Regions from separate parts of the Homo sapiens genome. Here region 2 is linked to region 1. Evidence: fine-mapped expression QTL. A gene starts in region 1. The other region holds a variant in brackets. All regions are shown on one strand. Distances are from middle to middle.

What was found.
Region 2: its variant is fine-mapped to the expression of SMANTIS in whole blood (INTERVAL, PIP 0.92).

The regions. Positions count from the first base shown.
Region 1 is chr2:69,797,704-69,800,627 of GRCh38, forward strand. It overlaps SMANTIS (SMARCA4 interacting SWI/SNF chromatin remodeling complex scaffold lncRNA), which reads right to left and starts at 1,295. Exons shown (of 3, transcript NR_164155.1): 1 at 1,085-1,295. All of the region lies in intron 3 of ANXA4 (annexin A4), which reads left to right.
Region 2 is chr2:69,924,673-69,927,596 of GRCh38, forward strand. All of the region lies in intron 3 of MXD1 (MAX dimerization protein 1), which reads left to right. Among named protein-coding and RNA genes, the nearest start is that of MXD1, 11 kb to the left of the region's middle. RefSeq lists an enhancer at 2,465-2,759. The variant GT/G (reference allele first, on the strand shown) is at 1,254.

The DNA of each region.
Region 1 (2,924 bases):
GGTGGCCTTCCTGCTAACAGAGAGAGTACTGAGACTAAAATTTGGTTTTGGAGGACATGTTCCTCCTTGCTGCTGAAAGCAGAGTTCTCCCACTTGCAGAGGGGGCATAAGGTTTGGTCTCTATTAGAGGGATGTAAAAGGGAGGAGAACTGAAAAGCCAGAGACTTTTAGCAAAGGGCAGACAAGATTCCTCATGGAGAGGATTCCCATTTTACTAGGTGGTGCTAGTGGAATACCAGGCAGTAACTTTGCCTCCATATGCTCTTTAAACAAAGGATGGAGAGAGAAGTCTGACCTGTGGCATGCTGTCCCCACAGCATACCTCCTAACAGGAGAAAGTTAGTTTGCCTCATAGAGGGGCTATCCGGTCCGACTGGACAGTGCTGGTTCCTCACATGGGAAAAGAAACAGCCTAAGTGGACAGAGGGGCATTTACTGGGGGGAAAATAACCTCCCACCCAACCCCAGGAAGTATTATCATTAGGAGTTAAATAGTCTTTGAGATCTGGATCATGGAATTCCCCTGTCTGTAAAAAGTCAGAAAAACAGCAATCCCTTAACCTGCATTCCTGGTTACTACGGTGGTTGCTAAACCTGCCTAATTGAATTATTTCCTGGGCTATAAAAATTCCTGCAGCATTGCATACAGAGAGGAGATGGGAGACATGGTGACTGCAGAAAGGAAAGGAGGAAAATAAGATTTGCAATAGGAAAACTTGGAGATCCTATGGCTGACACCCAGTCAGGCAATCAGAGGCTGGGGTCAGTCCAGGAGCCTTTTGAATAACACCAGGGTGTGGCCCTGGCCAGAAATTCTCAGTTGCTCCAGGACCTATTCCAGCCCCATACAACAACCAGGCTTTCTGTGAAAAGAAACTAGTTTGGACACAGCCAACATTCCCGGCACCCTGAGGGCAGGTCCTCCCCAGCAAGCCTCACATCTGAGTCTTCAAGACTGGTGGCCAGCCCTTGTGGCTCCTTAATCAGCTGTCAGATGCCCGGTGTTTTTGATAGTTATTTGAGAGAATAAAAACGGAGGACAAGAAGCCTCGGAAGTGAAAGTAGAGTCCGCTCCTTTACTCACCATTCTGATGAAGTCACCTTCAAATCCCAGACGAGCCCTCAAAATGAAGCAGCCTTGTTGTCTGGGGTGAATACTGAGGTTCTTGGTCACACGACCAGATATTGAGGTCAAGGACATGCACACACACATCGAGTGAGTTTGGAGCAGGAGTTTAATAGGCAAAAGAACAGAACAGCTCACAGTCACAGAGAGGGGTCCCGAGCAGGTTGCTAAGCAGTAGTAAAAATGTCAGGGTTTTTATAAATGGTCTAGGGAGGAGGGGCCTCATGAGGAGGGGATGTCTTATCCTCTTAGGGCCTGATGGTTTAGCTGCGACCAAGTGTGCTATCTATATAGAGCAGAATTTTTTTTATCAGCTTTTATCCCATTCCCTGACCACATAGGCTGACTCTTAGTCTGTGTTTCTTTGTCTTGCTTATCTGGGAGGGAGAGTTTCTGTGTCTGTTCCCATACATCTTCTTGCAGCTGCAGGCATCCGCCCCATGAGTCTGCTTTTAGTTTCTCTATCTTAGTGCACCTAAAGGGAAAGGAATGTGCTTATTAAGACCCACTGTTTTACTGGGGCCCATTGTATAAGTGTGAAGTTTGGCAATTACCCAGGAGACTTCCACCCCTTCTTCTGTGCTTGAGCTGTCTTATCTGTATTTTACAGCCTGAACTTTCAGGTTACTTGTTGTTAGAAGAGAAGTGATTTTTTTTAACTGTGTGTGGTTAGAAAGGGAGCTATTTTTGAGCTGCTTTTTGTTAAAAGGAAAGTTTTCTGCTGGGGACTCACTTTACCCTAAATGTCTACCTAAATAATTTCTTTTTGCCTCCTATAACACTGGTAGTGTCTTCCAGCATGCTACCCTCCAGTTAGCTCCTTGGGGGCCAACACCTTCATGCTGGGTAGGTACAGTGATTCTATGTGCACCACAAACTACCTGGCCTAGCCTCTGCCCCCAAGACCTTGTCTCAGTAGACTTTTGGCCAGAGAAGTATCCCCTGGTTCTTAGCTGCTATTTAGAATCTCCTTGAGATTTGGGTAAAAACACTTGACCATGAGACCATCTTTCTATCCAAAAAGAATTCATTTTACTCAGCCTCAATGTTGCTAACAGTAACAACAACCGTAGCAATAATAGAAAATGTTTATTAAGCTCTACTATGTGTCAGACATAGAGATAGATGCTTTCCATGGGTTATCTGTTTTAATCCTGACAGAAGCTTGTCTTACTGTTGAGAAGGTAAAGTATAGTGAGTGAGGCTGGCTGACTTGCCCACGGTCTCAGAACTATTAAGTGGTATATTCAGGATTCTAGATAATTCCTAGAACACTTTCCTTTCATCTTTGCATGATCAGCTGCCTCAAGTCTGATTCCAGAGCTGGAGTTCAAGCCACTGTTCTATGCTGCTGCCCATCTCTGAAGAGAACATTGTCCTGAATCTATGTATCTTCTTCTTTTCCCTTTTTCATAAAAAGAGAAAGGCATAGGACCCACCTTTTTTTTCAGTTTATCCTAATTCTTTGGTTACAAGGACACCATAATTCAAAATGTAGCCCATGTTACATTCAGAATTATCAGCATAAAGGGTGAGGAGACATTTGGCACAACCAACCCCTTTTCAGTGCCTGTTATGTGTGGGCCAATGCAAGGCAGACTGTTGGAGAAGACAAGGATTATAATCCCTAGTTCTTGTGTTCAAATAGTCTATGAATACTAGCACAGCTAAGGCATGCACAAAAATAACTATGATTAATTCATAATATAACAGTGACAGGAGGGGCACAAATAAGATCCCACTGGGGTTCAAAGAGAAGAGATCACATTTCACTTGGGGGCATCGGGCAAAGCTTCTT
Region 2 (2,924 bases), 130 kb after region 1:
ATAAAAAGATTATCATGGCTTTCATTGCTTCTTGGCCTTTTGGCTAAAATCAAGTGTAAAAAGATTGCCATGGCTCTCAAAAAAAAAAGGAAGAAGAAGAAAAGACAACTTAGGAAAAGAACTTCTAACAGTGGGATTTTCCCTTTTCTTGATATTGCAGAGTTGATTATACTTGGGTTAGTTTTCTTGAATGGAAACCTTTTCTATGGCACTTTAGAGATTGTAAATAATTAGTGTTACTCTATGTTATCAGGACTCCACTGTAAGGATATTATACCCAACACCAACACTTTGAAGTATCTTCGCATTGGTGGGACAATAAAAGAAAAGACTTCTAGAATGGTGGTGGTGGTAGTATTTTCTACTCAACAGAATAGGTGTTGAGCACCTAAGATGCCGTGTAGTAGGTGCTGGGACTACAGAATCCAGTAAAGACTACGCACTGCTGTGGAGGAGCTCAGATTAATATCACTCTACAGGGGGTTTGTCAGTCAGCACATGGCCTGTGTTTCTCTGCATTTTAGCTAATTTTCTGGGTCTGATCTCCTAAGAAAACACCCTTGGGAGGGTGGGGTATGTGTGTGTGTGTGTGTGTGGTTTTTCTTTTCTTTTTTTAAACTAATCTTGCAGAAAATTTTGAGAAATATAGAAAATAATACTAAAAATTTAAATTGTCCATAGTTCTAGCACTCAGAGAAAACCAATGGAACTTGAAAATATATCTTTCCAATTGTTTTGGAAAAGAACTGAAAATATAGTTTTGTGTAGAAAGTTAGAAAATTCAGAAAAGCACAAAGAATATAAAAATCACCTGTAATAGGCCTCTCAGAGGTAACACCTGCTAACATTTGTTCTATATCCATCTAGACTTTTGTGTGTACTTTTTTTTAACCAACATGGGATCATATAGTAATAATTTGTAGCATCTTTTCCAGTTATAAACATTTTCCAATGTCATTAAATCTCCTTTTTCAACATTACTTAATGCCCAGTATTATATTATATGAATATGTTAAACCTCATATAATCAGTCCCCTGGTTTAGATTCTTCCCAGAACCTAAACAATGCTTTCTTAAACCACCTGTAGAAAAATCTCTGTCCAACATCATAATTATTTCCTTAGGATAAATGTATAGCTATGGAATTGGTGGTGAACACGTTTTTAGGATTGCTGGATTGTCCACCAGGCAGGTTACAGGCATTATTTTCCCTGCACTTCACAAGTTGATGTTATAACTTAAAACCTTTATGA[GT/G]TTGATAAGTAAAAAATAAAAAAACACACAGGCAACTTGTTTTAATTTGCATTTCTCATACTACTAGCATAGTTGAACAATTTTTATGTCTTTGACTCTGTGTGTCTCTTTGTGTGAATTGTCTATTAAATAGCCTTTGCCCAATTTTCTACTAAAGAATTTATCTTTTTCTTTATTTTAAAAAGTTTCCATAATATAAAGGACATATATGAAAGATATTGACACTTTTTCTATCACATAACTGTCCAGTTTATCATTTAGCTATACAGAATCAGTCTTCCCTCACTGATTCAAGTTGCTACCTTTGGTGTATACTTATTTTTGTTTATGGCTAAGTCTCTTTCTAGACTTATTCTTCCAGTCCATTGATCCATCTCTTCTTCCTGTGCCAATATATACCCTTTCATTCTCCTTTTTTTTTTTCCATGCCCTTATCTATTTTCACCAGTTTATTTTTCCTGAAAAAAATTTTAATCTGTGAATTCCCCAACCCCTAAATTCTTTGGGGAGTTTAAAAATTGACATTGCATAATTCCAATATAAATTAACCTTTAAAAGTTCATGCTTATATATTAGATCTTTTCATCCAGGATTTGGTATGTGCCTTAATTTATTCAGATTTCTCTTCTGTCTCTAAGCAAAGTTTTGTAGCAAAGTTTTCCACACAGGTCTTATACATGTCCTGTAAAAGGTATTCCTGGATTTATATATTTTTAGATTGCTATTGGTTTCCCATCTTAGTTAACTAATTGATTATTGTTGGAATATAAACATATTTGAATCTTTTGTTGTTACATACCCTTTATTGATGATAATTCTGCTATTTCTTTCTCTTAACTGAGAATTCCTCCAATTTAAAACAAAGCCTTTCAATGAATCCCTCAGCAAATGGAGACTGAGCAAACACATATAAGCTACAGCCAATAGGTCAGGAGCCAGGTGGTAGAATAGACTCTTTTTTCAAAAGATGGCTCTGGCGTCTCCTTTAATAGTAGACATCCATTTTTCTGGAGTGGTACATATGCAGCTCTTGCTAGAATTAGGTGCCTGGTCTAGAGCTACTACCTCTGCCAGAGTCTTCTGACCCTGTGACAGAAGATTTCTGTGTGTGCTCCATGGGGAAGACTCTGCAGCCCAATCTAAGCTGTTATTTCCATTTGGTCAAACAGTATTTCAGTGGCATCTGGTCTGGCATGAGAAATCAATTCAGTCAGGTCTCTTCTGGAAGAATATTCTAATTGATTACAGGTCCCTATAGTTGTTCCTTTTGGGTTTTGATTTTTCAAATGACCAAGTCCCTTATATGGGAAGGGCTGGGGCCTGACTTTTGCACTGGGCCTGAGTTGTGGTATGCATTGCATCACTCTTATTGTTTCTGAACTTTCTTGACCACATTCAGATTTCACTCTGGGATGTTGTAACAAGTCCATGTTTGTTGCAACATGGGGTAAGGTTATTACGAAGGAGAGACACAGCGATCAGTGTATAAATCCAATCTATATTGATGGTCTGGAGAAGAACTCACATTTGTACCACAAGAATCATCTTCCTTGTACTATAACCCTTGAGTAGATGACACCTGCCTTTGGCAAGACTTGGAGGAGAGACACATGCTGGTCATTTGACCAATTTCCAGTCTCCTACCTGGGACCCTGGGGCTATTCCCTTAC